Linked DNA regions of Homo sapiens. The protein of the gene in region 2 interacts with the protein of the main gene of each other region in a pairwise test. Each region holds a gene or a part of one and is shown on either strand. Other genes may lie near its edges. The genes, in order: MIIP, EFHC1, SPATA2 and TEX11.

The links.
Region 1: the proteins of EFHC1 (region 2) and MIIP interact in binary tests that used the Homo sapiens proteins (3 or more experiments, as listed by UniProt).
Region 3: the proteins of EFHC1 (region 2) and SPATA2 interact in binary tests that used the Homo sapiens proteins (3 or more experiments, as listed by UniProt).
Region 4: the proteins of EFHC1 (region 2) and TEX11 interact in binary tests that used the Homo sapiens proteins (3 or more experiments, as listed by UniProt).

What each region holds. Positions count from the first base shown.
Region 1 is NC_000001.11:12,029,451-12,032,546, reverse strand, and holds the end of MIIP (migration and invasion-inhibitory protein), read right to left. Parts: intron 2,783-3,096; coding exon 2,653-2,782; intron 2,520-2,652; coding exon 2,423-2,519; intron 1,282-2,422; coding exon 1,144-1,281; intron 1,007-1,143; coding exon of another isoform or gene 986-1,006; exon of another isoform or gene 826-985; coding exon 739-825; 3' UTR 502-738; downstream 1-501.
Region 2 is NC_000006.12:52,493,324-52,497,728, forward strand, and holds the end of EFHC1 (EF-hand domain-containing protein 1), read left to right. Parts: 3' UTR 1-3,875; downstream 3,876-4,405. UniProt on the Homo sapiens protein: Microtubule inner protein (MIP) part of the dynein-decorated doublet microtubules (DMTs) in cilia axoneme, which is required for motile cilia beating.
Region 3 is NC_000020.11:49,905,525-49,912,572, reverse strand, and holds part of SPATA2 (spermatogenesis-associated protein 2), read left to right. Parts: exon of another isoform or gene 1-2,121; intron 2,122-3,980; 5' UTR 3,981-4,082; coding exon 4,083-4,418; intron 4,419-5,727; coding exon 5,728-6,954; 3' UTR 6,955-7,048.
Region 4 is NC_000023.11:70,528,410-70,534,729, reverse strand, and holds the end of TEX11 (testis-expressed protein 11), read left to right. Parts: intron 1-4,730; coding exon 4,731-4,895; intron 4,896-5,542; coding exon 5,543-5,635; 3' UTR 5,636-5,790; downstream 5,791-6,320. UniProt on the Homo sapiens protein: Regulator of crossing-over during meiosis. Involved in initiation and/or maintenance of chromosome synapsis and formation of crossovers.

The DNA.
Region 1 (3,096 bases), on a different chromosome or scaffold from region 2:
GGGCACTGCCTACTCTCCCAGACTGGACATCTGGGCTCTCTGCTAACCTTGCCTCCAACTCACCGCCCAGCCCTGTTTCCTCATCTGTCCCTGCTGGGGCTCTGAATGACCTGCGGCTCCCATGGCTGGGTGGAGGAGCCATGTGACCCCAGGGACTTCCAGAGAGCCCTTCTATCAATGGATCCCGGTTCTGGGACCAGGAAGGAGAGAGCTCAGTCACTCAACACGACTCACGGCTTCAGCGGAGGCCCTCGCTAAAATGACTTTTTAATAACCTTGGCCCAGCCTGCCCAGGGGCCCCCCCTCCCCCATCTGGTGGAGGCCACTACCCAGAGCTGGGGATCTGCGGAAGGAGCCACCCTCATGGTGACGGACACACACTGCCTAGTCCCAGTGGTTGCAGTATCTTCCTTCCACAGGTGCCAGGAGGGCAGGCTGAGAGGCCAGAGTGCCTTCTGGGCCTCAAGTGCATTAGCAGGATGGAACCAGCACACGTGGGACTTGAGCTGCAGAGCACTGAGCTTTATTTACAAACTTCCACAGAATCCCTCACCCTCCACCCCAGGGTCCTCCCTCTCTGGAACTCAGGCAGCAGACAAGCTTGGGTCCACCCACCTGCCCAACCTAGGACAGCTGGGCCTGAGCTGGGCGGGCAGGGGATTCCATCTCCTGGGTGCGCCTGCCAGAGGGGAGAGGCTGGAGGCGGCGGGAATGCTGTTCTCCCCCAGGAGTCAGTCCTCAGGGCTTCTGCCGTGGGACGTGGGGCCGAGGGACCTGGGGCACTGACCAGGTCGGGGTCGGGGGCAGCATCTGCATTGGTGAGGCCTGGATGGGGAATAGGGAAGTCTCAGGGGGGCCACTTGAAAGGGACAGGTCATCCCCAGTTCCAGCCACATTCCCTCCTGGATCTTGCAGTCAGGGTGGCCTTCCTGGGTGGAGCAGGGCAGGCGGCAGGGAGCAGAGGAGTTCCGAGGGATGGCTAGGGTCAGGGCTGGAGGGCTGGACCCTGCAGAGAGACACTCCCAGGCTCCATCCTCCCCACCTCAATCCTACCCCCCAGGAGGCTCTGCAGTCCCCAGGCCTGCTGCGAGGTCTCTGTCCCTCTAGGGGGCACCCCAGGCTAGGATGCGATCTGGACCGTACCGGGTGAAAAGGGCTGCTGGTGCCGGACAGCTTCTGGTGCTGGGCCTCAGCGGAGACAGAGGACCAGAGGTCCAGGTTCCTGGGGGCTGAGCTTTTCTCAGACTTCGGAGGAAAAATGTCCCAGCCCAGCAGGCAGTGCTGTGGAAGGCAAGGAGTTAAAAGTGCCTGACCTGGGACAAGCTCCCCGCTGACTGGGCACACCCCCATCAGGGAGGAACTGTGCCCCCCATTAGGAAGGAGGCCCCCACCAAGGCAGGGCCTGTGTCTACCCACAAGACTACCCCAGCTCTCCCCTTTCTTATCCTGGCAGATCCAGCCATCCCTGGGGCCCTGAGAGCTGAAATGGGAGGAGGATAGGACGGTGACAGTGACATTCACAGGGTACTTCCTGCTGTAGGCTCTCCAAGCACCTGCATGGATTGCTTCACTCAACAGCCCCACCTCACCACCAACATCCCTGAGGATGGCGCTGTTATGTCCATTTTACGGACCAGCAAACTGACTTTCCTCTGCATCCTTCTCCTCCTCTGACCCCAGCTGCCCTACTCTCAATTTAGGAGTCAGGGGGAGTTGCCACTGGCACCCCATCCCGACCTGGAGACACAGGAAAGGACATTTTTTTTTTTTTTGAGATGGAGTCTCACTCTGTCACCCAGGCTGCAGTGCAGTGGCGAGATCTCAGCTCACTGCAGCCTCTGCCTCCCAGGTTCAAGCGATCCTCCCACCTCAGCCTCCCAAGTAGCTGGGACTACAGTGGAGGCTGCAGTGAGCTGAGACCATGCCAATGCACTCCAGCCTGGGCAGTAAGAACAAAACTCGGTCTCAAAAAAAAAAAAAAAAAAAAAAAGCAGCAGCAGCAGCACAGAGACCTAGGTTCGAATCCCAGCTCCTCCACCAAGGCGCCTCCCCCTCTGCTTCGGTCTCCCCACCTGCAGGGTGGGGGTACAGCAGTGCCTACACTCCTGGCTGCTGTGGGGGCTCCATGAGATAAGCCCCCTAAGGACTGTGCCTGCAGTACACAAAAGCGCAATAAACAGGACCCATTCATGTCATGCCAGCCTGCAGGCAGATCACCCTGGAAGCACCGGGGTACGTGGAGCGGGGGTCCTACCTCCCTTAGGTACAGGTGTGGGTGATGGAAGAGGCCCAGGCTGTGCTCCAGAGACTTGGGCGCTCACCCTTGTCGAGCCCAGTCTCGCTCTGTGACCCTCCCTGGGGATCTGGGCCAGTCTGAGCCAGCCCCGCCCTCATCACCATCCAGCCCCACGTGGCTGCTCACCCGGGGCAGGGCCAGTGTGTCAGAGGCGTCAAAGCTCTTTCGCCGGTGGATGTGGTACCGGTGCGGGGGCTCCAGGATCGACAGCGGGATGCTCACCCTGCGCAGGGGGGCAGTGGGGGACCCCTGAGGAGCCTCCCAGCGGTTGGGGGCCCACGCCCAGGCCCATCTTTTCTTAAAACCAGTGGTTCAGGCTCTGTCCCCCAAGGTGTCCCAATACTCTGGTCACTCACCTGACGTGCGCTGGCTGCGCCAGGGTCCCAGGGCCCTGCTGGTCTCGCGGTGTCCTGCACAGGCGGCAGGGGGTACCGGGATCCACAGGCACCGGGAACAGGCGCCGGTTGACACGGTAACAGTACACGCCTGCGAGGCCCATGAGAAGCCACAGCTCTCCCTGAGCCAGGAACCCAGGTCCCCAGGCTCCGTGCTGCCCTCAGCGGCCCCCAACCACACAAGCTGCCAATCCCTCTGGGAAGCCCTTCGGCCCATTTCCTCCTAACCCCTTTCCTCCCAGAACCTGGGGCCCACGCCCTAAGGGGTGGGGAGGGACATCCTCCTGGGGCCCTCAGGAGCTGGGATGGAGTCCCACCAGCACAGGGGCACTGCTGGGGAGGGTGGGATGGTGCCACACAGGGCAGCCCCTAATTCGGTGGCCAGGCCTTAGCTCACTCCACCCC
Region 2 (4,405 bases):
GTGTGAGCAATTTCTTATAACTCTCTCTTTCTCTCTCTCTACATATATATATATATATATATTTTATATGTACACATTCATACACACACACGCTTATATGTATACATATAGTATGTATATGTGTATATATATTATGTATATACATATATGTGCACACATCTCTACTAAAAATAGAAAAATTAGCCAGGTGTGGTGGCGTGTGCCTGTAGTCCCAGCCACTCGGGAGGCTTAAATGGGAGAATCACTTGAACCCTGGAGGCAGAGGTTGCAGTGAGCCAAGACCACGCCACTGCACTCCATCCAGCCTGGGTGACAGAGCAAGACTCCATCTCAAAAAAAAAAAGGTTAGAAAAATGCTGCTTTTAGAGAGCCTGGCCTTGAGAGAGGAAGGAAAGACTAGTTGCAGTTACTATTCTCTGGTGAGCTCTGACTGGCTTTTTACAAACAGGGCTTCTCTTTGGTTGAAGTCAGCCACTAAGTTCATCTTTAAACATGCTATCTCAAATTCCCCGAAGCCACCCAAAATGTGGTATGAATGAGGATAGAGTTACACAGAATTCAGACTGCTTTGCCCTCTCAGAACTTCTAGGGAACTTCCCTTGGTGTTTCCTTCCCTAACGAGCTCAGCCACTTGTAACCAGCTTATTGAAAGGGCTGTGAATGTATTATGTTGATTCCTTTTCTGTTCCAGGTTATTATCTTGGGAATAACCCATGTTTTGTTTTGTTTTACCCTCAGTCGCTCATAACTATTTAAAACAGTATCTCTTTCAAGTACAGATGCTCCTCTACTTATGGGGCTATGTCTCAATAAACTCACGTAAGTAAAAAATATCACAAGTTGAAAACACATTTAATAACCCTGATAAGCCCATTGTAAAGTAGGCAAATAAGTTGGACCATTGAAAGTTGGGGACTATCTGTATTTTAGAAGTTTTTTCAGCTTAAAAATTACCAAGCTCTATCCTACTTGGCCCAGCTCAGTCCTTCCCCCAGGCTTAGAAGCCTGTGGTAAAGAGTGTGTGTATACTGGGGTGATGATAGTGGTTTCTTCTTACTCCCTTCTTTCTGTCTTCTGCTCCCTTTGTTCCTATTCAGCCATGCTGCTGTTTCTAGCCCATGTAGGCTCTGGGAAAGGTTAAGCGGGTAGAAACCAGAGAAAAAGGGCAAAGTCTTATTTCTGTGGCTAGTAATGTCGTAATGTGGGGCCAGGTCTGAGTGACATGTGCCGAAAGGCTGACTCTTTCTCCCAGAGCACCTTTTCTCTCTTTTTGGATTCAGGGGGTACATGTGCAGGTTTGTTACATGAGTATATTGCACCCAGGTAGTGAGCATAGTGCCCAGTAAGTAGTTTTTCCACACATACCCCCTCCTTCCCTTCCCACTCTGGTAGTCCCCAGTGTCTATTGTTCCCATCATTATGTCTATGTGTATTCAATGTTTAGCTCCCACTTAGAAGTAAGAACATGCAATATTTGGTTTCCTATTCCTGCATCAATTCACTTTAGGATAATGGCCTCCAGCTGCATCCATGTTGCTGCAGAATACATGATTTCATTTTTTATGGCTGCGTAGTATTCCATGGTGTAGATATACTTCATTTAAAAAATCTAATCCACCATTGATTGGCACCTAGGTTGATTCCATGTCCTTTGCTCAGAGCCCCGTTTTGGTGAGTTCTTAGAACTCTTTCCAACCGGAAACTGCCCAGTGCACCACTCTCAGATGGACGGGACCCAGTCTGTACCTGATCACCCCGGCTCTAATGGTATGGTCTCCAAGGCTCCTTCTGATCTTCCCAGGAGGCCCTTTCAGGCTGACACACCTTCCAGGGTGTGCACTCTCGCCATGTTCTCACCCAGATGGCTCTCTTGGCTGTGTAATTAGGCAGCTCAATCCCTTTCCTTTAGACTGTTTCAGGGGAGAACCAGGTACCCCAAATCTTATGCTCTCCAAACTCCAGGGGACAGACACATGTCAAACCCTGAGTCTTTTAAAGTATACCCTCACTTAGCTTGCAGACCCAAGGCACTCCAGCCCCTTTCAAGAAGCTTGCACTTTCTGATATTTTCTCCATCACTCTTGCCTCCTGTGGTAGAGGAGCTTTGGGCTACTCCTTAACAAATCATTCATGGATCGGCAGCAAATCTGCAACATATGGATATATTTGCCAATTTTTGTCCTCAGCTTTGGGTCTCAGCCAAAATGGAGATTTAGGAAAGTCTCATTTAGCATCCTCTAGCCTGCTTTTGGCTGTTTTGTTTTGTTTTTGTGTTTGTTTTTTAGAGACAGGGTCTTACTCTGTTGCCAGACTGGAATGCGGTGGTGTGACCATAGCTCACTGCAGCCTCAAACTCCTGGGCTCATGCAATCCTCCTGCCTCAGCCTTCTGAGTAGCTAGGCCTGTAGTCTCAGAGGGAACTGTCTTCAATAAAGTTGGCACTGTCCACATACACTCCTTAAGTTTGCTGTCCACTTCTTGCCTTGCATCTCCTTTTAAGTTTACTTAAGACTGAGAAGCTGAGATCTGACAGCACCAACACAAGGTATAAAAGAGATTTCATGAAAGACCAAAGCCAGCAGGCCATTTCTGTGGTGTCCAAACACTCGCTGCTCACCTGTTTATACAAAGCAGCAAGTATAGGAGCCACAAACGTCAGAGCAAATCACTTTTTCTACTAAAATCCTGAATGGCAGTGCAGCCATTAGATGTCACTAATTACCTTATGCTACAGTCATAGCTGGCATGCATCTGGAGTGTCAGGTTCAGGTGGTGGAAGGGAGCTGAGCATTACCCTGTAGCAAGCAATATTGTAGGAAGCAGAAATGATCATCACTTCAAACTGGCCACCAGGGAGTTGAAAGATTCTAATACACACACACACCCACACACACACACACACAAAGAGAGAATGAGAATTATTAAGATTAGCACTGGTAGCTGAAGCTATCAGGTCTAACTGAAGCATTTGACTAAGACTGCTTATAGTGCTTACGGCTTTGGGACTAATAAAAATCTGCCTTGCGGGTAAAGATGGGCTGTGAGTTAGCCACTACTCAGAAACCTGGGCCTGTACCTTGTCTGCACCATCAGGGGGCCTTGAAAATACCATCCAATTAAGGTGTATCAAATCCATATCTATAGGCTTTGAGGGTATTTGGGACACATAGGTAGAGAAGACGTCTCTAAATGTTGTCCAGAGAATCCACTTGGTTAAGTGACTCCTGAGTATCCTGCTGGCACATAAGTTCATTTTAAAAAGCCAATATGAGTGCTTTATATGTACCATGAACTTAGCATTCAGTATCTCTAAATCTCTCACCATGACTCCCCACAAAACATGAAACCCTTTTGACACAGATGCACAAAAAGACTCGGAAGGGTTAACTGCTTGAGTTCACCTAGCTTCTCATGGCAGAGCAGGACCCAACTCTACAATGAAGCTTGCCATGCATCAGAACCACTCACCTTCACCTCAAGCAAACATTTCCTCTTTCTCACACCCCATGGGTGTCCTTGACTAACTGCCACCTGTAACTGCACTCATCTTTTGAGATCTTTTTCCAAAGAAAGATGGTTCTGGTAAACACAGCAAGCAGCTACAGCCAACAGCAGCCATGTAAGTGACACCAGCAATCCCCACTATTACTAATACTTGGATGTCTTCTAGTCAGCACCAACATATTTGTTGGCCTTTACACAAACGAAACCCCATTTCCTCCAAGCTAAATAACATCATAGTATAGTAGGCATCAAGGATGATGTGCTTGTTTCTGGAGCTTCCTACCCACAAACCCCATGTTAAGAAAACCTCTTTTCCACTTTACTATTAAAGAGTCAAATAAAAATGATGCTTATTGCTATCCAGCACTTGACATAACTGACTCTCCATCCTTAATTCCCTAATTCATATCACAATGGACAAATACGGGTCAAAATATATAAGAAATGACTAATATAGTGAAAAATAATAGACATGAGGGCTAAAATTCATTGCAAACTCCTTTAAGCAAACGTAAACATCCACGTTAAAAGCATCACTGTATAAAAGCACGTCAAGGAAATAATTATGAGACAATTCTGATAATTTTCTGCCTTTTATTGTTATTTCAGAAAATATTTGATCATTTGTTCCAAAATGTACATTTAAAAAATCCATACAAAACTGTAATTTGTTTTAAAACCAGACAGAAACAGTGGAAAAATGATTTTGAAAAAAAGTTCACCAAAAGCAAAAAGACACCCCTCCCCCCAACCCTTTTTTACATGAAAGCATAAATACGGCAGGTACAAATTTTCCTTGAGTTCCTTGTTGAAATTTGGTCCATATGAACAGGCTAGAGTAGAAAACAGACACTTTGTCCACATTTGCATTATCAGTTGCTCAGGGCACCAGCAGCCTTAG
Region 3 (7,048 bases), on a different chromosome or scaffold from region 2:
TTCTCAGACTACCAAAAAACAGACCCTGGGGCCAGAGGCGTGATGGCAGCTTCTCTTAGATAAGTCAAGAATGGTAAATGCATGTGTGACTATCCTCTCCAGTGGTGCAATACATTTATTTATGTAGAGATGGAGTTTTTGCTCTGTTGCCCAGGCTGGAGTGCAATGGCACGATCTCAGCTCACTGCAACCTCTCCCTCCTGGGTTCACGCCATTCTCCTGCCTCAGCCTCCTGAGTAGCTGGGATTACAGGTGTTCGTCCAGCTAATTTTTGTATTTTTAGTAGAGGCGGGGTTTCGCTATGTTGGCCAGGCTAGTCTCAAACTCCCAATCTCAGGCGATCCACCCACCTTGGCCTCCCAGAGTTGTAGGATTACAGGCGTGAGCCACCGCGCCTGGCCTGCATTTTTATTTTTTAAGAGAATATACATTTTAAATTGTTTATTTTTTTATGGACAGAACAGTATGAAGTTAGAGCACATACCTACTTTGATACTAGGTGGTATGCTCTTCCAGCTAGAGCTGCAGGCAGGATGTGTCTCCTTTATTGCTGTCCTCTACCTGTCCCACCCATCCCCATTCCCCGACTGGGTCCAGCTCAGGCAGAGGGTGGGGGCTGCAGAAATGCTTGCTGGACATGGGAATCGTGGGGTGGTGAGAGGAATACAGGTTCCAAGTCAGAAGGCCAGGCTTGGATTATCGGGTCCATCATCTGCTAACCTTGAGCTACTTGTCGTACCTCATGCCATCTTTCTGAGCCCGTTTCTTTGCTCTCCAGCTGATCTCCCAGGATTCTTGGGAGGTACCAATGAGAAACTAAAGTGATGGCATCGTGAATGCAGACATCCTTTGCAGCATCCATTTCTCTTTTTCTCTTTTCTTTTTCTTTTTCTTTTTTTTTTTTTAGAGACGGAGTCTCGCTCTGTTGCCCAGGCTGGAGTGCAATGGGGCGATCTCGGCTCACTGCAGCCTCCGCCTCCTGGGTTCTAGCAATTCTCCTGCCTCAGCCTCCCGAGTAGCTGTGATTACAGGCGCATGCTGCCACACCCGTCTAATTTTTTTTTAAATTTTGGTAGAGACGGGGTTTCACCGTGTTGCCCAGGCTGGTCTCGAACTCCTGAGCTCAGGCAATCCACCTGCCTCGGCCTCCCAAAGTGCTAAGATTACAGGCGTGAGCCACCGTGCCTGGCTGCAGCATCCATTTCACCTACTTTATCAAGCACAGGCAGGCTCTGTGTTAGGCATCGTGGTGAACAACACAGACATGGTCCTTGCCTTTATGGAGCTTACCACGAGCTTACCAGCTTACCAGGGAGGGTGAGGGGTGGACAAAGAGAGGAAGCTAATGAATGAATGAAGTTGATAGTTTCAGATTGTGGTTATCGTAGGAGAATGTGACAGTGTGGAACTGGGAAGGTGAGATAGGGTGGTACCTCTAGAGGCTGATGTTTGAGCTGAGGCCTGAATGATGAGAATCTTCCTGAAGCAGAATTTTATCCCAAGTGGATTTTGTTTTCTTTTGTAAAGACAGGGTATTGCTATGTTGCCCAGGCTGGTCTCGAACTCCTGGCCTTGAGCAATCCTCCTGCCTTGGCCTTCCAAAGTTTAGGGATTACAGGCGTGAGCCCCCGCACCTGGCCCCTAAATGGATGTGTTTGCCTCCTGTACTCCTCAGCCTTATTTGTCACTGTAGCACTGGGCTCCCTCAGCAGTGCAGTGTGTTGGAGACAGTGGCCTCTCTGTGTCCCTAGTTTTGCTACACATCCCACCTCTCACCGCACCATTAGTACTCCCAGGAGTCTCCTCCTGGGGACAAAATCTGTGGAGGAGCCAGACTACTGGCTCTTTGAGATGAGGATGATTTTGTTGACCTCCTGATAGTTGCTGGGCTCGTAGGACCTTCCTAGCTGAACACAGGTCTGCTAAAGGAGTCCCCCACATGCCAGGCCCAGTCCTGCTGCAGCTTCTCTCAGCCCCTTGCTGTCTCCCACACTCAGCAGACATGAAGCACACAGGTCACCTTACTGAGCAAGATGGTCACAGGCCTGCACCCACGGAGCTTCTGGGCAGGAGCAGCAGGACCAGAGCATGTGAAAATGCACATCTACCACCCAGTCAGAGGTATTTGCCCCACTCAGAGAAGGCCTGTCCACTTAGGGGTACAGCACCTTCAGACAACAGCAATGGCCATCAAGGACTTCCCGGAGCCGGCTCTCTGAGCAGCTTCATATTCCATCATGCATAATCCTCTCGCCAGCTCTGGACAGAGGCGCTATTATTAACCCCGTTTTATAGGAGAAAACCGACACCCAGGGAGGTGGAGCAATTTGCCCAAGTAACCTGGAGAAGCAGCCCTGGCCTCACTCGCAGGTGCCTGGCCTTGGACCCCGTGTCCGTGACCCTGCGCGTGTTGTCTCCCCTGGCCCTGGCAGTGTCCCTCCATTAATCCGGATTCGCTCCCAGCGTTGTGGTGACAAGAATATTGCTGGATCTGTGCCTGTTCTACTAACAAGTGGCTAAGCAGATGACAAGATTGTGTAAAGCCTGTGTCCCAGCTCAGAACATTCTATCCTCTCCCAACAGGGGGCTGTCAAGCGCTCTGGTGATAAAGGGGCCGCAGGCTGTCAAAGGCCGGTAACAGCACTCCAGGGGCCGGTAGCCACGGTGGCCTCTTTTGAAAATTGTAAATAAGACCGTATCTCTCTCCCCTCGCTGTAAACTCTTCAGTGGCTTCACGTGGCTCTTTGTATAAAATATCGAATTCTGAATGTGCTCTTGCGGCCTTGGGGCTGAGGGTCCCGCTGATGCTGGCATCTGCCTCTCCTCATGCCCCTGCCCTCGTGGCCTCGGCCTCACTGGCTGCAGTTCTGTTACTGTTCCAGGCTTCCTGCCTCAGGAAAGCAGGGTGTGGTGGGTAAGGGCATGGACTTTGGAGCCAGATTGCCTGGGTTCTGAGCTCAGCTTCTCTGCCTCCTGAGAGTTCTATAACCTTGGACAGTTTCTTTTTCTTAAAAATTTTTTTGTATTTTTGTAGAGACGTGGTTTCACCGTGTTTCCCAGGCTGGTCTCGAGCTCCTGGACTCAAGCCATCCTCCCCCGTCAGCCTCCCAAAGTTCAGGAATTACAGGTGTGAGCCACTGTGCCTGGCCTACCTTGAGCAGTTTCTAATGTCTGTGTCTCAGTTTGCACATGGTCCACTGGGGCTGCCTGTAGCGTCTCTCTCCTAGGATTGTTTAAGAAGAAAAAGTGAGGCTGGGTATGGGGGCTCACACCTGTAATCCTGGCACTTTGGGAGGCCAAGGCTGGTGGATCACTTGAGGTCAGGAGTTCGAGACCAGCCTGGCCAACATGGTGAAACCCCATCTTGACTAAAAATACAAAAATTAACCAGGCGTGGTGGCAGGTGCCTGTAATCCCAGCTACTTGGGAGGCTGAGGCAGGAGAATCGCTTGAACCCGGGAGGCGGAGGTTGCAGTGAGCTGAGATCACGCCACTGCACTCCAGCCTGGGCTACAGAGCAAGGATCCATCTCAAAAAAAAAGTAAGCGAGTTAGTGTGTGTGAAGCTCGTCACGTGTCTGGAGCCTCTGGTACTATTAGCTCAGGGCCTTCCTCTACTGCGACTCCTTCCCCGGCCTCTTGGCCTGGCAGACTCCTCATCCTTCAGGTCTGTTGCTGTCTCAAGAGGGCTTTCCTAAACTCGCCCTTCCCCAACGAAACCAGGACAGGAGCTCCTGCTGTACTCACCCGAATTTCTCTTTCAGGAATATTAATCGTATTTTTCATTTGTGAGCACAACAAAGTCAAGGTCCATCTCTCTCTGGCCTCTGTTGTAACCCTGCTTGTAGTACATGCTCTGTAGTGTGCTGCTGGGGTCCAGTGTAGCCCAGGCCAGTTCTGCTGTTCATTTTGCCTCAGCGACCTGAAGCCGAAGCGCGACCGTATCGAGGAATGACATGCTTCTTGTTCCCCTCCTTCCAGAGCACTCCGCTGGTCCAGGCGGCAACATGTCCATGCTTTTAGTGATGTCCCTGCCTCTAATCCAGAAGCCATGGAGGAGATAAGGTAGCCCCCCTCGATCGGATGGGGAAGCCCAGTTCAATGGATACTAAATTCAAGGATGACTTATTTCGGAAGTACGTGCAGTTCCATGAGAGCAAAGTGGATACCACCACCAGCAGGCAGCGGCCTGGCAGCGATGAGTGCCTGCGGGTGGCAGCCTCAACCCTGCTCAGCCTGCACAAGGTGGATCCCTTTTATCGATTCCGGCTGATCCAGTTCTATGAGGTGGTGGAGAGCTCCTTGCGCTCGCTCAGCTCCTCTAGCCTGCGGGCTCTGCACGGCGCCTTCAGCATGCTGGAGACGGTGGGCATCAACCTCTTCCTCTACCCGTGGAAGAAGGAATTCAGAAGCATCAAGGTGAGGTCCTGGAGCAGCCTCCATACAGGCCCTCCTTCTCTCTTCCTGCCCCTGGCAGTCCCTCCTGAGAGGCTATGCCAGTCTGATCCCATCCATCCTGTGCTCTCAGATCCTTCCGGGCTCCGAACCTTCCCCGTCTCTCCAGCATCACCTCTGAACCGTTTCTGGCCCGGCTGCCACACCTTAAGCAGAGAAGCTGGGAAGGCAGGGGCAGCCAGGTTATGCAGGGTCTTGTGGCCCAGGGCAAGGCTTGGATTTGTTCTGAGTAGGCGGGGAAGGAGGCAGTGTGGGATCTGGCTTGCATCTGAAGAGGGTCATTCTGGCTGTGGTATGGGAAGTAGGCTGTAGAGGGGTGGGGGGAGGTGGGAGGGATGGGGAGAGCAGTTAGGAAGCTTCTCAGCGGTCCCAGCAAGCTGAGGGGTGTTCTGTACTAAGTGGGAACAGTAGAGGAGGAGGGGGAATTGAGAGAGGGATCCTGAATCAGACCACGCGGGGGATGGCACAGGAGAGCTGTCACCTAGCCAGGCTTCTTCATTCTGCCATGGGAGGAGTGGTAATCAAGAGAGGGGATGGCACAGGAGAGCTGTCACCTAGCCAGGCCCTTCAGTCTGCCGTGTTACTCAGCCCCTCATGGAAATACCAGAGAGGAACGTTCTGATTGTCACCGCGTTCTGCCTGTAATCTGGCCCCTTTATTCAGCCATGTTTGCCCAGGCTCTCTCTTCATATGGAGTAGAGTCTTCGTGCCCCACTAGGAAGCGAGAGGTTTTGCTTCCTGTGTTTAACAAAGTAGCTGCTGCCAGGCGCGGTGGCTCACACCTGTAATCCCAGCACATTGGGAGGCCGAGGCGGGTGGATCACGAGGTCAGGAGTTTGAGACCAGCTTGACCAGCACGGTGAAACCCCATCTCTACTAAAAACAGAAAAATTAGCTGGGCGTGTTGGCGGGCGCCTGTAATCCCAGCTATTCAGGAGGCTGAGGCAGGAGAATCGCTTGAACCCAGGAGGCGGAGGTTGCAGTGAGCCAAGATCGCACCACCGCACTCCACCCTGGGCAAAAGAGCGAGACTCCGTCTCAAACAAAAGAAAGGAGCTGCTGGGTCATTTCCTTGCACAATTCCTGAGTGCTTAGCAAGCCCCAGCTCCTGCGTCTTCTGCCTCCCGCAGGGTGAGGCTGTCGAGATCCTTCCCTGCCCTGCCCTCTCCCCGCCGCCCCACTTCAGAGCTGGACATCCTTTGCTTTGACATAGTCTCTGTCTTGTGTCTCTGACAGAAAACCCCACCTTTCTTTTCTACTCCCTCCCTTCTAGACCTACACGGGCCCTTTTGTTTATTATGTCAAGTCGACATTACTGGAAGAGGACATCCGAGCCATCCTGAGCTGCATGGGCTACACACCTGAGCTGGGCACTGCATACAAGCTCAGAGAGCTCGTGGAGACCCTCCAGGTGAAGATGGTCTCCTTTGAGCTCTTTCTGGCCAAAGTCGAGTGTGAGCAGATGCTAGAAATCCACTCACAAGTGAAGGACAAGGGCTACTCCGAGCTGGACATTGTGAGCGAGCGCAAGAGCAGTGCAGAGGATGTGCGCGGCTGCTCGGACGCCCTGCGGCGGCGGGCAGAGGGCCGGGAGCACCTGACGGCCTCCATGTCACGAGTGGCACTCCAGAAGTCGGCCAGCGAGCGGGCGGCCAAGGACTACTACAAGCCCCGCGTGACCAAGCCCTCGAGGTCAGTGGATGCCTATGACAGCTACTGGGAGAGCCGGAAGCCACCCCTGAAGGCCTCATTGAGTCTTCGGAAGGAGCCTGTGGCAACGGATGTGGGGGACGACCTCAAGGATGAGATCATCCGCCCATCCCCTTCGCTGCTGACCATGGCCAGCTCCCCCCACGGCAGCCCGGATGTGCTTCCACCCGCCTCCCCCAGCAACGGCCCGGCCCTGCTGCGCGGTACCTACTTCTCCACTCAGGATGACGTGGATCTGTACACAGACTCTGAACCCAGGGCCACCTACCGTCGGCAGGATGCTCTGCGGCCGGATGTGTGGCTGCTCAGAAACGATGCCCACTCCCTCTACCACAAGCGCTCGCCCCCTGCCAAAGAGTCCGCCCTCTCCAAGTGCCAAAGCTGCGGGCTGTCCTGCAGCTCCTCCCTCTGCCAGCGCTGTGACAGCCTGCTCACCTGTCCTCCAGCTTCCAAGCCCAGCGCCTTCCCCAGCAAGGCCTCGACTCATGACAGCCTGGCCCACGGGGCATCTCTGCGGGAGAAGTACCCAGGCCAGACTCAGGGCCTCGACCGCCTCCCGCACCTTCACTCCAAATCCAAGCCCTCCACCACGCCCACTTCCCGCTGTGGCTTCTGCAACCGCCCAGGCGCCACCAACACCTGCACCCAGTGTTCAAAAGTCTCATGTGACGCCTGCCTCAGCGCTTACCATTATGACCCCTGCTACAAAAAGAGTGAGCTGCACAAGTTCATGCCCAACAACCAGCTGAACTACAAGTCCACCCAGCTCTCCCATCTCGTGTACAGATAGACCGGCCTCGCCCCTTCCAGCTCCAAGGGCTACATCAACCGACCTTTCGGGTTTCACGGTGAAGAAGTACTAACGCATTGATCTCAGAGGCGGA
Region 4 (6,320 bases), on a different chromosome or scaffold from region 2:
ATGGAGAGCCTAAAAGGACAGGCATTTGTGCTCCAGAATACCTACGATTCAGTTAGAGATCTACGTGGCTGCCATATGTATTAAGATGTTGAGGACAGAGAAAACTGGTTTAAAATATGTGGCCCCAAAAACCATCAGAGCAAACACCTCAGTTTGCTGACATTGATTTGTATTACACGTAGGCAAGTCCATGTGGCTTTCAGGTCAGTAGCTGTGTGGATGCATTTCTTTATTGAGGATTAATGATTTTCATAAGCAATGCTGGGCATGAGGGCAACTAATGCAAATTAAAATAAAACTCGAGTGTTCCCTAACTCATTGGATGACACCATCATTCTTCTGGTTGCCCAAGCCAGACATCTAGGAGTCATCCTCAGCACCTCCCTCACTCCCACTTCTAATCTATCACCAAGTACTATCAATCAATTTGACCTCCCAAATATCTCTCAAATTCATCTACTTCCTCCTATCTTTCACCATCAGTAACCTAGTTCAAGTTACACACCTTTTATCTTAGCTAGTTTAGTGATCTCAGGAACCTTTTAACTGGCCTCACATCTACTCTTGCTTTCTTCCTTCCTTTCTTTGCCCAGCAACCAAGGTGATCTTTTACTTTTTTTTTTTTTTTTTTTTTTTTTTGAGATGGAGTCTCGCTCTGTCACCAGGCTGGAGTGCAGTGGTGCAATCTCGGCTCACTGCAACCTCTGCCTCCCAGGTTCAAGCGATTCCCCTGCCTCAGCCTCCCCAGTAGCTGGGACTACAGGCACCCGCCACCACGCCCAGCTAATTTTTGTATTTTTAGTAGAGATGAGGTTTCACCATGTTGGCCAGGATGGTCTCGATCTCTTGACCTCGTGATCCGCCCACCTCGGCCTCCCAAAGTCCTGGGATTACAGGTGTGATCCACCATGCCCAGCCAATCTTTTACATTTTTGAGTATGCATGACCTTTTGAAATCCTCTTTAGTAGTTTCCCATTGCTCTTAAAATAAAGACCAAAATCTTGAATGTGGTATACAAGATCCTACTAACCTATCTGTCCTCATCTTGAGCCACTCTTTCCCTCACATTCTGCACTGTCAGCCACACTTTACAAGACCACAAATTACCACCGTCTAGGCAAATATGATGGTCTCTTTTCCCTGGCCTTCGTTATTGACCACTGCCTCCTTATTGAAATTCTGTTTTCCTTTGTCCTTTATTTTCTCGCCACTCCTCTGCGTTCTTTTCCCTCTTACCACCCAACTATGAACATTTCCAATATTCTCTACTCTTTGCTACTCTGTATTCTGTACTCTGTCCTTTAAGTGAATTAATACACTTTAACTATTACCTGAGTTCCAATCCATATCTGCAACAGCCTGCTTATCTCCAGAGTTACCTCAAGCCAACTTGTTTAAAATAGAACTTATTGTTGTCCCTTATCCCCAGAAACATGTCCTTCAATTTTTTCTTTCAGTGATGCCAGCATTCTTTCAGCCATTCAAACTACATACCTTAGAGCCATTTTCACTTGACCTGTCATTCCCCATATCAAATCAGTTACCAAATTCTATTGATTCTTCCTTTAAATGATTCTTACATCCGTCCATCTAAATTGTCACTATTTTAGTTCTGACCCTCATCACTTCATTCTTAGATCACACAACTCCTTTTATTTTATTTTATTTTATTTTTATTTATTTATTTTTTTGAGACAGAATCTCGCCCTGTCGCCCAGGCTGGAGTGCAGTGGTGCGATCTTGGCTCACTTCAAGCTCCGCCTCCCAGGTTCACGCCATTCTCCTGCCTCAGCCTTCCGAGTAGCTGGGACTACAGGTGCCTGCCACCACGCCCGGCTAATGTTTTGTATTTTTAGTAGAGACAGGATTTCACCATGTTAGCCAAGATGTTCTTGATCTCCTGACCTCGTGATCTGCCTGCCTCGGCCTCCCAAAGTGCTGGGATTACAGGCACAAGCCACCACGCCGGGCCTTTATTTTATTTTTTGAGACGGAGTTTGGAGTTTCACTCTTGTTGCCCAGGCTGGAGTGCAATGGCACAATCTTGGCTCACCACAACCTCCGCCTCCTGGGTTCAAGCGATTCTCCTGCCTCAGCCTCCCGAGTAGCTGGGATTACAGGCATGTGCCATCACACCCAGCTATTTTGTATTTTTAGTAGAGACGGGGTTTCTCCATGTTGGTCAGGCTGGTCTCGAACTCCCGACCTCAGGTGATCTGCCCGCCTTGGCCTCCCAAAGTGCTGGGATTACAGGTGTGAGCCACTGCGCCAGGCCATAACTCCCTTTAAACACGTCTCCCTGTCTGTGTTTTCCCACACGGAGGTCTGTTCTAAACACCACTGGCATTTCTATCTTATTAAAACTACACTTTCATCATATCACTCTCCTTCTCAAAAAGTTTCAGTGCCTTCCCGTTGCCAGCAGGATAAATTTCAAAATCTGAAGCCTGTAATGCAAAAACCCTTAACACTCCAGCCCACAAGATGTTAGCAAACGTTCCACATACCCTGGATTAGACAAAGTTCCATGGTTTCTTTACTGTAAAACTTCCCTAAACTTTCAGTGAACTAGTGTGCATTATAATGCTCCAAAAGGGTGATATATAGAATGCGGCATTTCCAAAATGTATTTGACTAAAGAACTCTATTTTCATAGACCATCTGTTAACATTTCTCATGACACTAGTGTTCTGAGGAAGAACATTGAGGAAAGGCTTAGGAAGCTCCATCCTACATTTCCAGTCTTATTTCCCGTTAACTCCTCTACATAAATCGTCTGCTTAGGCCAAAGAACTCTTGGTCTTCCTAAGACATGCTTGTTCTCAAGTACAATCCAAGTCTTCATTTATTCTGTTCTACCCACATGGAATGCCCTTCTCTTTCTCTGAATATCTATATTTTTCTTTTTAATTGAGATTTAGTTCATATATCATAAAACTCACATTAAGGTATACAGTTCAGTGAGTTATAGTATATTCAAAAGATTGTGCAACCATCACCATTATCTAATTCTAGAACATTTTCATCATCCCCAAAAGAAACTCTATACCCATTAGCAGTCCTTCCCCATACCTCCCTTCCCCAGCCCCTGGCAACCACAAATCTCCTTTCTGTCTCTATGGCTTTGCCTATTCTGCACATTTCATATAATCTCTGTATATGTAGATCCTACTCATCTACCCTAAGATCATGTTTGTTTGTTTGTTTAAGTCATTTTTTTCATTCACAACATTAAAATCACAACACTCATACCCTGTATCAGACACTGTGCCAAGCAAAGGCAAATGTCATTTTACCTTCAAGGGGCTCCCTGCCTAGTGGGGGAGACAGGCAGTACAGTGTTCAAAGTACTATTATGGTGCTGTGAACAAAGTAGCAGAGGGGCAAAGAGGTTTGAGCAAGAAATTGTGGAGAGCCAGGGAAATCCTCACTGAGGAGGTGGCATCTGACTGGATATTGATTCATTTGTTCATTCATTCATTCAGCAAACATCTGTTGTGCCTCTTATGTGCCAGGCACAGTGCTGGACTCTGAAGATACAAAAATGCACAGGAAAAATTCCCTGTACCTCAAGGAACTCAATAGTCTGGAGGAGATAAATACATAGCATTTCAAAACAATATAACATAAGTTATATTAGAGGAATGGAAAGCTCACTGTGGGAACAGACAACTAACTGTTCTTGTGAATTTGAAGAAAAAGTATAAGTCTATGAAGTGGACAAGGATGAGGAGTAGTGTTTCAAGCAGAGACTAGACCGCCTCTGACTGGAATATCCTAGTGCTCATTTCTTTAACTGAATGAGAGCACCTAATGTTTGTGTCTCTTAATCACATACCTTGTGAAGTCGTCTTTACATGTGGATGCCTTGTGTCCCCAAAAGCATTGCACAACCTTTAGGATAAAAGTTTTGTCTTTTCCCTCTTAGTGCCCTCATTATCACAGTGTTTTATGTATAGTAATTTCTTTTTGGATCCAAATGAATGAAAGGATGACAGCTGAGACAGCATTCTTGACACTCTCAAAAAGCTGCTGCCTAATGTGTCTCCTATCACATTTCTCCCTTCTGGGGCTTTAACATGAATGCTTTCTTTGTGTTCCATCTCCTATGCAAGAACCAAGAAAGTAGCTTCTTAGACTAATACTTTTCACTATTGCAAAGTATTGTGAAGAAGCAAATATAATCTTGTGATTAGTCATGTTAAAGACCACTGATAAGGCTAAGGGACCATCTTAGAAATGTGTGCTGTGTTCATAGCTAGGTAGATATCGTTAACTCTGAAGATGAATATAATTTCTACTCCAAATATGGACTAATTCTGGTGACAGAAATTAAGAAATTCAATAAAACTGCTTCTTGACAACCTTATCCGAAAAGTAGAGGTAGGTATTAGGGAGGTAATTGACTGAAGACAGAATCAAGGGAAGCCCCAAACAGTATGCAAGTTTTTCTCGTGCCTCAGGAAGATTAGGAATCTTTCTAATTCTTTCCTTCAGTCAGAGAGGACCTCGGTTTACGTCTCTTCATGAGATCTTGCTATGGAACATTCTACAGCTGACAAACCTTCAAAGTGCTCTCCTCCTGCACTCTCCAGGAGCACAGACCTTCCTAAACATCAGCAGAGCTCCTATTGTTTGTTTAGTAATAAAGGGACATAGCATGGATACAGGTAGTGCCACAATGAACTGTGACAGTAATAACTGCAAAATTTCTGTTCTTGGATTATAGAAAGACTACCCAGAAATGGAGATTCTCTGGCTGATGGTCAAGTCCTGGAATACCGGAGTACTTATGTTTAGCAGGAGCAAGTATGCATCTGCTGAAAAGTGGTGTGGCCTGGCCTTGCGTTTCCTTAACCACCTTACCTCCTTCAAGGAAAGCTATGAAACTCAGGTAAGGAGGGAGAGGGCTAGGGCAGATGACATGACCTAGGGGGCAAGAGGTTATGGCTGGGCTCTCCACAAGGACTCAACCCCATCCTCCTTGGCTAGGAAAGGATCTTGCTCATTGTTCCTCTCAATGGTTCCACATAACTTCAAGAATCAGGAGACCATAAACAGTAATTCCTTAGAGCAAAAACCAAGAAGGACAGAGAACAGGGGGAAATTTAAGGATAGCAAATGGAATCTAATTAAGAGGAATGCCAAGAGTGAGCTCTGGAAAGATGCATCACTGTCAGTGCCAGTGCATGTGGGAAAGGACTGGCCTCTGCTCAAAGCAATAACTGTTGAAAAAGGCATTTTCTCCAGGAACTATTCTCAGTTGCAGAGTTCTGGGCCATTGGCTAACCAGGAGAGGTTTGGTAGAGAAAAAGCCTTGTTACCAAATAAGAGCAAAGGATATTTTATAGTTAAGTATCTTCTCCCTTATAATAGGGGATTCCTTTTCCTCAAGAGAGGACTGTATTTTCTCCCCAAATCTGAGATGCTTCAGATCTCCGAAGGTAACGGTTAGACTTTCATGCCATCACCGTGGGTCTGGGAAGCTTTCCCACATTTCTTTTTCCCCTCAAGAAATCTATTTGTTGTTCTCTTTCCCAGATGAATATGCTGTATAGTCAGCTTGTGGAAGCATTGAGTAACAACAAGGGCCCAGTTTTTCATGAACATGGCTACTGGAGCAAGTCAGATTAGGCAAGCTCATGGCCACATGAAGAAGATACATTGTCCCGAGATGCTGACTGTTTAAATTTTTGCCAGAGTTTCTCTTGAGCTTTTGTTTCTGTTTGCTCAGACCCTGTTTTCATGTTGTTGAATAAACTTTCTAAAATAAAAGCATGCTGAATTTACCTTGGTGACCAGCTCATTTCTGGGGGACAAATGAATTTTCCAAAGTGCTAAGGATGATATTGAAATAGACCATGTGAGAGCAAGATGGTTTATGCCCCATCTGAACAAAAGAGAATGTTCATCCCAGTTCAACACAGATTGCATTTTATTCCCAAAGTGCTCAAATTCCTAATCCCTGAAGATATCAAAGAATCCCAGACTCTTATTTGGAAGGACCTTAGTGGTCACCAGGGCCAGCATTTATCTGATTCATGAAATCTCTCTCTAACATCCTTGAGAATCTGTTGCCCAGTTTCTAACAGAACTTATTCCAGGCCAGGCGTAGTGGCTTGTGCCTGTAATCCCAGCACTTTGGGAGGCTGAGGTGGGCAGATCACTTGAGGCCAGGAGTTCAAGACCAGCCTGGCCAACATGGCAAAACTCCATCTCTACTAAAAATACAAAAAAAAAAAAAATAGCCAGGCATGGTGGCGCGTGCCTGTAGTCCCAGCTACTCGGGAGGCTGAGGCAGGAGAATCGTTTGAACCCA